Linked DNA regions of Homo sapiens: region 2 is linked to region 1. Evidence: fine-mapped expression QTL. A gene starts in region 1. The other region holds a variant in brackets. All regions are shown on one strand. Distances are from middle to middle.

Region 1 (5,379 bases):
AGCACTGTTTATAAGAGACAACAAAACAAAAAAAAATGAAACAAAACTGGAGAAGTAACATTGTTAAAATGTCCTACAGATTCCATGTAATTCTTATCAATATTCCAATGACATTTTTGTAGAAATAAAAAATTCTAAAATTTATATAGAATCATAATAGACTCCATATAGTCAAAGCAATCTTGAGCAAAAAGAACAAAGCTGGAGGCATCATATTGCCTGACTTCAAAATATACTACAAAGTTATTGTAATCAAAACAGCATGTCACTGGCATAAAAACAGGCACATAGACCAATGGAACAGAATAGAGAGCCCAGAAATAAATCCACGCACTATAGTCAATTGAGTTTCATCAAACATGCCAAGAACGCGTAATGGAGAAAGGACAGTCTTTTCTATAAATGGTGTTGGGACAACTGGATATTCATGTGAAAGAATTTAGACTCTTATCTTACATCATATGCAAAAATCAACTCAAAATGGATTAGACTTAAATGTAAGAGCCAAAACTATAAAACTCTTATAAGAAAACAGGGACAAAATGTCATGGCATTGGCCTGAGCAACGATTTTTTGTGTAGGACTCTCAAAACACAGGCAGCAAAAGTGAAAATAGACAAATGGAATTGCATCAAACTAAAACGTTTCTGCACAGTCAAGAAAAAAGAAAAAAAAAGAGTGAAAAGACAAACTACAGAATGGGAGAAAATTTTTGCAAACCATACATCTGATGAGGGGTTAATATCCAAATATATAAGGAATACAATCCAATAGTAAGAAAGGACAAAACCTGAATTAAAAGTAGGCAAAAGATCCAAAGAAATCTTTCTCAAAAGAAGACATAAAAATGGACAACGGGTATATTAAAAAAAAATGCTCAACATCACTAATCATCAGCGAAATGCAAATTAAACCCACAATGAGATATCACCTCTGACCTGTTAGAATCGCTATTTTAAAACATAAGAAAGATAATAAGTGTTGGCAAGGATGTGGAGAAAAGGGAACCGTTGCACCCTGTTGATAGGAATGTAAATTAGTACAGACATTATGGACAACAGTATGGAGGTTCTTCAAAAAAAATAAAAATAGAACTACCTTATGATCCAGCAACCCTACTACTGGGTACATATCCAAAGGAAACAAAATCAGTATATTGAAGAGATGTCTGCAGTCCCATGTTAATTGCAGCATCATTCACAATTCTCAATCTGAGTGTCCATCACTAAATGAATGGATAAAAATATGGTACATTTATATACACAATGGGATACTATTCAGCCTTTAAAAAGAATGGAATGCTGTCATTTACAGCAACATGGATGGAACAGGAGGATATTGTGTTAAATGAAATAAGCTAGGCACAGAAAGACAAATATCCCATGATCTCACTTATATGAGGAAGGTAAGAAAAGTTGAACTCATGCAAGCAGAGTAGAATGGTGGTTACCAGGCGGTGGGGTAGGGGGAGGGAGATAGGGAGGATTTTGAGAAGTTGGTCAAAGGATACAAAATTTCAGTTAGATAGGAGGAAACATTCATGAAATCTATTGCACGACATGGTGACTATAGATAATAACAATGGGTTGTATTCTTGAAAAATGCTAAGATAATAGATTTTAAGTGTCCTCACCCCCGAAATGATCAGTATGTTAGGTAACGTTAACTAGCTGGATTTAGCCATTCCACAATGTATACATATTTCAAAACATGTTACTTACGATAAACACGTACAATTTTTACTTTTCCTTATGTACGTCTTCATCTGGCTGTTCATTTTTATCTTTTATACTATCTTTTATAATAAACTGGCAATAGTAAGTAAAGTGTTTTCCTGAGAAACAACAAACTGGAAACAACTGTTTAGCAACAAGAAACTGCCTGACCAGGTAGAAGGACGTGGTAGCTCTGTATGTATTGATATGGAATATAGTCTGAGATAAATTGTTTAGGAAAATGAAAAGCAAGTTGCCAAAGAACCCACAGTATGATGTCATTTATGTTGGAAAAAACGCCACAACGATGTGTGAGTGTGCACACTGAATGAAAGAAAATTCTGGAAAGAAACTAACGGCCAGCAGTGTCACAAGGGGGATAGGTAGTTTATTTATTTATGTGTGCGTGTGCAAAGTTCCGTATTGTAAGAATTTGCTACAGCCTGTGTTATTATAAGCTTTGTAATGAAACAGGTAGAAACTGAAAAAGTTTAATTATTCCCAATTCAGTTTAGGTTCTGTCTCCGGAAGACTTTCCCGGATTCCCCAGCCCCCACTCCCCACCCCATCTTACCACCCCCTCTGCCAGCTCTGAGTCTCAATTTTCTTTTCTGTAAGGATTTTCATCATTTAACCTTATTTCTTCTGAATGCACTAAATGGTAGTTATCCTAGCACTTAAGAGGATGTCGGAAACATGGTTCATTGTCTGACCCTTCCGACTCTGACTTGTATGAGCACATTTTGGGGGGAATGTAGGAGTCAGGGGAAGAGGAGTTCCAAAAAGAGACTACTAGAGGGTACAGCTGTCCCGGAAGAGACTTCTGAAGAGAGCAAAGCGCGTCCGACGTTTTTCTCGAGAGGCGCCGAAGTTTTCCGGAAAGAGACGACCAACTGAGAGGTGGGCCCCCAAAGCCGGCTGCGAGAGTCACCGAAGATTTCCGGAGAGCCAAGGAGTCGGGAAGAGCCACTTACTGAGCGTTGCCGAACGTGTACGGAGATAGCCGAAGAGGCGGAAGGCGGGGCCACAAGAGCCCTTCCTGCAGGGAACCTCAGGCTTCAGAGAGCCGAAAAGTTGGGAGGCGTAACCACTTACAGGCCGGAAGTGTCCGGGGTGGACGCATTCGGGTAGCCGAAGAAGTCCCAGGATTGCCGAAGAAGTCCCAGGATTTCCGAAGCGAGCCGAAGCATCGCGACAGTTTTCAGAGACAGCTGATCGGTTGGAGCTGTTGCGCCGAGCAGTCATGGCGGCGGCCAGAGCTACTACGCCGGCCGATGGCGAGGAGCCCGCCCCGGAGGCTGAGGCTCTGGCCGCAGCCCGGGAGCGGAGCAGCCGCTTCTTGAGCGGCCTGGAGCTGGTGAAGCAGGGTGCCGAGGCGCGCGTGTTCCGTGGCCGCTTCCAGGGCCGCGCGGCGGTGATCAAGCACCGCTTCCCCAAGGGCTACCGGCACCCGGCGCTGGAGGCGCGGCTTGGCAGACGGCGGACGGTGCAGGAGGCCCGGGCGCTCCTCCGCTGTCGCCGCGCTGGTAAGGTGGGCCGGGATCCCGGCGTGGGCGGCCCCGAGGCTCTGGGGCCTGGGCGGGTGAGGGACTCCCCTGCGCTCCGAAGCTGGATTTCCCTCAGTTTCTCCTTCTGTGCCTTCTGCGGTGTCCGGCCTTTCGGAAATGTTATTCTTTCATCCCTTTTTTCATTCGTTAAGTCTTAAGAAACCACGTGGCCATGCAGCGTCAAGCTTTTGTCCTGAGGCCGTTCTGCCTGGTTCAAATCTGGGATCTGTCATTATTGCTCAATGTTGAACATGTTTAACTTCCCTGAGCCTTGGTTTCCCCATTTGACTCGTTTCAATTTTCGATCATTATCTTTCCATTTATTAGTTTTAAGAAACATGTAATGACAAGTACTTGCCCCACTGGAGCCAGGCTCCCTGGGTTGAAATACTAACTCTGCTGCTTGTGTAGCCTTTCAACAAGTTATTTAGCCTCTCAGCCTCGGTTTTCTCACCTGTAAAATGGGAGACATAGTAGCAGTATCCATGTCATAGGGATGTTGTGACCATTAGAGGAGGTATGTGTGTCACGTATTATGTTCAAATGTGTGCCTGGCACATAGTGCCCAATAAATGTTGGATTTCATTAAATTGCCTATTTTTTCATTAAACATCATTGTGCGCCAGCACCATAAACTTTGTCCTCAGATGAGAAAGTGACACTCAGAGAGAAGTAACTTGCCCAAGGTTACACGGTTACTAAGTGGCCGGTCCAGGCCCTCAGCTCCTTATGCCTCTGACTCAGAAGCCCTGGCTTTTTACTTTTACGCTTCTTGCCTTTCTTTTATCAGTATTTTTTAGGTACCAGTGGGTACCAGGACATTGTTAAGTGCTGGGAGATCTGGGTGGGGGATATTCAGTAGCCAACAAGCGGACACATTGCTGCCCTTTCAGAGACTTAAGATTTCATGAAGTTATTTGTGTATTCATATTTCTGTTTTCAGCCTCATGATCTGTTTCGTTAAGCAGAGATTGTATTATAGCTGGCTTGTTTATTGCTGTATCCCCATTGATAACATCTCTCAGTTTCTAGAAAAGTATACTGAGCCTGGTTGACTTTCAGTAAAGATTCATTGAGTTTATTGGAGCTATTGTTCCTTGTATAGTAGCAGAAACTGAGGCTTAGAGAAGTTAATGTAATTTTAAGATTAGATTAGACAACTAATAAGAAAAGCAGCTGGGATTTGAACCCTGTCCTCTCTGACTACGAAGATGAACCTCGAAGCTAGCACACTGCTTGGCCTCCTGTTTGTGTCCTCATCAGTAGAAACTGCTCTGACTGGGCTGTGCCTTGCTCTTTGTTTTTGTTTTTTGAGACAGTGTCTCACTTTGTCACCCAGGCTGGAGTGGTGCAGTGGCACAATCTCAGCTCACTGCAACTTACGCTCCCTGAGTTCAAGCTATTCTCCTGCCTCAGCCTCCCGAGTAGCTGGGACTACAGGCGTGAGCCACCACACCTGGCTAATTTTTGTATTTTTAGTAGAGATGGGGGTCTCGAACTTCTGACCTCAAGTGATCCGCCTGCCTCCGCCTCCCAAAGTGCTGGGATTACAGGCATGAGCCACCACACCCGGCCTTTGTTTTGTTTGTTTTTTAGAGAGTGAGTGTGACAAATGAAGTCCAGTGAGAAAGGGTGGTTTGGAAGGGAGGAGGAAGCTATGGCCTCCTCAGTTTAGCTGTGGGGTGTTCCCAGGCATAGTCCTGCAGTGGGCATGAGCAGGGGAATATTCCAGATGAGTTCAGTTGTACCATTTCCTGTAGCATTCCTCAATAGTCCTGAAATAAGTAGATATAGATGGAAAAACTGGCTTAATCTTTGAAAATTAAGTTTACCCGTTAAAAAAAATCCAACCCAATAACCACTTATGTCTTGATTTCAGGAATATCTGCCCCAGTTGTCTTTTTTGTGGACTATGCTTCCAACTGCTTATATATGGAAGAAATTGAAGGCTCAGTGACTGTTCGAGATTATATTCAGTCCACTATGGAGACTGAAAAAACTCCCCAGGGTCTCTCCAACTTAGCCAAGACAATTGGGCAGGTTTTGGCTCGAATGCACGATGAAGACCTCATTCATGGTGATCTCACCACCTCCAACATGCTCCTGAAACCCCCCCT
Region 2 (5,379 bases), 62 kb before region 1:
ATGGAACACATTGGGCACTCTCTTAGCCAAGAAGGGGAGCTGGCTTTCCAGTAGACCAGCAATCTGTCTGCCGCAGCCCTCTGCATATGCTTTTGTGTATTATCTTATGAGTATATGTATAACCTTATCGAATAAGCTTATACCCAAATCACGGAGAAGCACCGCCAGAACTGATAGCAGAAGGGGTCAGAAAGAAATTATTAAGCTTGGGTCCTTCTTTTTCTTTTCTTTTTTTTTTTTTTTTTGACACGGAGTCTCGCTCTGTCACCCAGGCTGGAGTGCAGTGGTGCTATCTCCGCTCACTGCAGCTTCCGCCTCCAGGGTTCAAGCAATTCTCCTGCCTCAGCCTCCTGAGTAGCTGGGATTACAGGCGCGCGCCGCCACGCCCGGCTAATTTGTGTATTTTTAGTAGAGACGGGGTTTCACCATGTTGGCCAGGCTGGTCTCAAACTCCTGACCTCGTGATCCACCCGCCTCAGCCTCCCAAAGTGCTGGGAATACAGGCGTGAGCCACCGCGCCCGGCCAAGCTTGGGTCCTTCTATCAGACCATATAAGTTACTGTTTTAAAATAAATCCCACCATCTCTGCCTGGCACTGTTAGGTTGCCGTGTATATGAGGCAGAGGGGTGAGTTGTAAAATTTAACCTTGTGAGAGTGACTTCAATCTTGGTGATTGTTTGAGGCTTTCTTTTCCTTCTCTCTCTCTCTTCTTTCCAGTTCTTCACTCTAGAAAGTAGTTCGGGCTTCTTTTGATCTCTGAGAGACCCTGCTTAATCTCACGATAGCCCTGCAGGTGGGTTTGATTGTTTCTGCTGCACAGATGAGAACACAGGTCCGGGTGCAGCAGGGGCTCCCCGGGCCAGTCCTCCGGCTCAGCCAGCTCTCTCCTCTAAGGACTTGCAAAGAGTGGACGCTCACCCTGATTCCACTATGGAGCACTCAGGAAGGGAGTCCTGGTATTTCATTGACAAGGCTGGCAGACTGGACCAAGTTGGAACTAAGACTTGCCCTTGTCACCCACACGGGACCCCCAAGACTTTTTCCCCCATCTCCTGTACACACTCAAAATTACAGCCTCCACGAACTGCTATGAAAACACTTTTTAAATAGATGCCTGGCGCGCCCTCGTGTGTCTCCATGGTGTAATAACACCGTAAGGTTTTCAAAACAGCTTAAAAAATAACAATAATGATGGCTGCTGATACAGCTGATACATATTGAGCACTGATGTGCCAAGCAATGTATAAAGAAATGTAAATGCACAGTTTCGGCTTTGATATAAAAATTTTTCTTCTGAAGAAACTATATATGATCATGGTAAAAAAAAAATCACACAGGGCACAAAGGTTTACAGCAAAGTTATCTTCTCCCACTCTGTCCCGCCTGATGTGAATGGTGCACACTAATGTTGGGCAGTGCATAACCTGTCCAACCTTTCACCGTAACACTGATATGGGTCCATGTGCAAATGTATCTGTGAGATACATTCTTAGACTTGGAATTGCATGTGTATGCAGCCCTCTCCAGGGGGCACTTAGTACCACTTTGAATCATTGCACTGGCACTACTTGCATTGGCAGATGTTTTCCCCATTATTTCCTTCACTCGATAAACTACTATTAAGCACCTACTGGATACAGGGCACTTGGTTTCAAGGTTCTCTTTGCTGGTAGCATGAAGGCAGACATGAGTTCAGACCTTACATCCCATTCTCTCAGCAATCCAGTACGAAGAGTTTTTCTTAAGAAATTTAAAAATTAGTCCCAGAATCCAGTATCACTGGCTTTGGTTGGCTTAGCTTTGGCCACGCCCTCATTCCTGAACCAATCATTGTTGCTGGGATGGTGGGGGTGGGGTGCTCTTATTGGTTAACTAGGAGATGGGTGGGGTCCCTGAGGAGCAGATCCGTAAGAGCTATCAGCTTAGAGGCGAATGGAAGTGGATGGCGTCCAAGCAACAGATGCCCGCTTCTGTGACTCCACCCCTTACGGAAAGTCTATGGGACTCTCTGAAATGTATGAGTGATACTGTTAGAAAGCGGCAAGAAAATGAAAAGAAAACGTGGATGTTTTCCATATTTGAGTTGATGCAGGCTGGAGACAACAGCTGCCAGAGCTGCAAGGCAGAACACCCTGAGAAGTGGAACCGGAGGATCCAGGCGCCTGTTGAAGGGATAAATGAGAGCCGTGGCGTGTGGATGGGACTCTTTCTGTCTTCCGTTTGGCTGAAGCTCCAAACGCCAGGAGTAACCCAGTGGGTAGCAAGCACCCTTCCCTCCACCTCTGCAGGAA[T/C]TGCAAAAAGCAATGGTAAAAAAATTGGTTTGTGATCCTTACCCCAGTGCTCAAGGAGGTTGGAGAAGCTGAAAGAGAGGACTGGTTTTGATATGGTTTGGATTTGTGTCCCCACCCAAATCTCATGTCAAATGGTAATCCCCAGTGTTGGAGGAGGGACTGGTGGGAGGTGATTGGATCATGGGGGCGAATTTCCCCTTGCTGTTCTCGTGATAGTGAGTGAGTTCTCATCAGATCTGATTGCTTAGAAGTGTGTAGTGCTGGCCGGGTGCGGTGGCTCACGCCTGTAATCCCAGCACTTTGGGAGGCCAAGGCGGGCAGATCATGAGATCAGGAGATAGAGACCATCCTGGCCAACATGGTGAAACCCCGTCTCTACTAAAAATATAAAAATTAGCTGGGCGTGGTGGCGTGTGCCTGTAGTCTCAGCTGCTTGGGAGGCTGAGGCAGGAGAATAGCTTGAACCTGGGAGGCGGAGGTTGCAGTGAGCCGAGATCGTGCCACTGCACTCCAGCCTGGCGACAGAGCAAGACTCCATCTCAAAAAAAAAAAAAAAAAAAAAAAAAAGAAGTGTGTAGTGCCTCCCACCTCTCTCTCTTCCTCCTGCCCCAGCCATGTGAACACATTCCTTCTTTCCCTTTGCCTTGCTCCGTGAGTGTAAGTTTCCTGAGGCCTCCTCAGCCATGCTTCCTGTATAGCCTGCAGAACTGTGGGCCAGTTAAACCTCTTTTCTTTGTAAATTACCCAGTCTCAGGTATTTTTTTTAGCAGTGCGAGAACGAAGGGACTAATACAGGTTTGGAGACACGTCTTTGGAGAAACTATTGATACTTGGCGTCCTGTGGCATTTCCTTGCCATTAGCACCTCCAACGTTATGCTGGAGAAAAAGCCGTTCCAACTCTTCACCGAACGCCGAGTCAGAGAGATGTGGGGAAACCACCGAAAGAGCTTGCCCTGTGTCTTCTGGACAGACTAGTGCCAAACCCATGCCTGGAAATGGGTAGAAGTTAGGGACCATGGCCGCTCAGCCTCTGCAGGAAAATGGATTACTGCATCAGGAATGATGACTTTAGAGAAGGCCAAAGGTGTAAGTTTCTTCCAGCAGGTTCTGAACCTCCAGAGGCAGCTGGCCTGGGGTTATTTGGGATTCCCAGTGCAGGACTGCCTGAAAATGTGAGGCGCCCAAATGGGGCTGCTGGACCACAGGATGCCCAGGACCTGCAGGCACACTCAAGAGTGGCCTGCCAGAGGAGACACATTGCCTGCCTCCCAGGAAGCAAATTTGGAGGTTGCCAGTGGGAGAATTGCCAAGAACCGCCATCCCTCCCCTGGGACACACAAGCTAAGGAAAGAAGGAATTGGCCCTCTAAGTCCAGAAAGCACAAGATCACATCATCACAACACCAGCCAAGTAAAACATCCCTGCTCCTCACCTCTTCAGAGCCCAAGGGGGCTGGGGAGGAGAAGAAATGAGAGTGGAGGAGGAAAGAGGTTTAATATGAATGAAGTTTGGAGTTTTGACATGACTCGACATTCTAATGACTTCATTTAGACTGTTGCTACACTCAGAAGTGACTTGGAGACATTTTATTTTTATAATCATCACCATATTGTTATTGGTCATGATCTAAGGGTGAGGAGAAGGGCTAAAGGATCGGCCCAATGGATCATTCGGGGAAAGTAAAGAACTATCCCACCAGTTGTGTTTGAATGGGCAGTGAGAGGGAAAATCAAGTTGCTACTTGCACCCCTCTAACTCCCAACTTCCACTCTTTCAACATACCAGACATGAAAGCTGAGTAAATGACCTCAAAGGTACAGCGATGACAGGGTGTGGTGGTGGTAGTTCTTGGTTTCCTACATTGCATCTTCAAATCGGGTTTTAGAATGGATGACACTGGAAGGCTAGAAATCTCAGGTACTGACATGTGGGCTGGTTTATAATTGTCTTCAAAAATTCACCCACAATAGGATCAGACAAGTTAGTATGGCCATAGGTGCTACAATGGGAGAAAGTTTTAAATGCTGTTCAGATCGGAAGACATGGGTCAAAAAGATCAAGAAGAGTTGACATGAGGCAAACATTTTATATCTCCATTCAAGAGCTACCTGATGAGGTTTCACCCATCAGGGATACAATGAGAATTTACTGGGCGCCTAGCACTGTGCAGACACAATTCAAGCAAAAGGCAACCAACTCTGGCATCCAAGTGCAGGCCAGCAGCCAAGTTCTTCCTCCTTATGAGCTGACATCTGATTGACAGATGGCCCCAGAGAAAGCTTCTTGGATCATATCTCAGTAACCACTGGCCCAGCCTGTCAAATCCAGAGATTTAAGATGGCATAGCACCTTAAATCTGGAAGAACTTAGCAACTTTATAATGTCAAATCCAGGGGGAAAATACGCACACAGAGAAACCAGAAAAGCATAGAATGGTGGGGAGAAAGAAAGAAAGAAAATGAAAACACTGTTTCCATCGGCAGAATTAGCCTTTGCCAGGAAAACTGCAATGTTGTCTTGGTAGGCACATAATTCATTTTTCTACATGTTCAGAAGTAAAGAAAAAGCCAGACCCAAAAAGCCAGACCCTGGGGGAAATCGTGGATACTGTTTGTAACTTTGGCAAAGACAATATATTTGTGAACTCAGCCTCATGTGAAATGCTTGATAATCTCAAAAAGTAAATGCCACAGCGTGTCGTATACTGTGTGGTCTCAATGATGTGAGAATGTCTATATATCCCAATACCTGTCCTCGTTTCTAACTAGCTTGATTTATTGTCATAGACAAAAGAGTAGGTGAATGAATATATACCAAAATGTTGTTAGTAACTGGTAGGACATGGGCAGTTTTTATTTTTAATCTTTATAGTTTTCAGTATTTTCTAAAGTACTAAAAATTATTTTTATTTTTTTCTTTCACTGTCATAGCCCTTTCATTATAGAAGCAAGACATGAATGAGAATTCACAGAAACACATAGACAGTATAGAATGTTCTAAGTGGGGAGCTAGTCTTTCCTGTTCTTCCAACTGCCTTGAGATTGCCACTGTCAGAAATCTTGCTTTCTATTTTTCAGGCTGTTTTC

The links. PIP is the estimated chance that this variant, and not a neighbour inherited with it, causes the effect. A credible set is the group of variants that fine-mapping cannot tell apart.
Region 2: its variant is the best candidate, but not a certain one, in a credible set for the expression of TP53RK in whole blood (INTERVAL, PIP 0.59).

Annotation. Positions count from the first base shown.
Region 1 is chr20:46,686,994-46,692,372 of GRCh38, reverse strand. It overlaps TP53RK (TP53 regulating kinase), which reads left to right and starts at 2,929. Exons shown (of 2, transcript NM_033550.4): 1 at 2,929-3,241; 2 at 5,142-5,379. The coding sequence starts at 2,959. TP53RK-DT (TP53RK divergent transcript) reads right to left here and starts at 3,074. Exons shown (of 1, transcript NR_186399.1): 1 at 2,084-3,074. RefSeq lists an enhancer at 2,481-3,070 and a silencer at 3,301-3,350.
Region 2 is chr20:46,748,571-46,753,949 of GRCh38, reverse strand. No RefSeq gene overlaps it. Among named protein-coding and RNA genes, the nearest start is that of SLC2A10, 42 kb to the right of the region's middle. The variant T/C (reference allele first, on the strand shown) is at 2,293.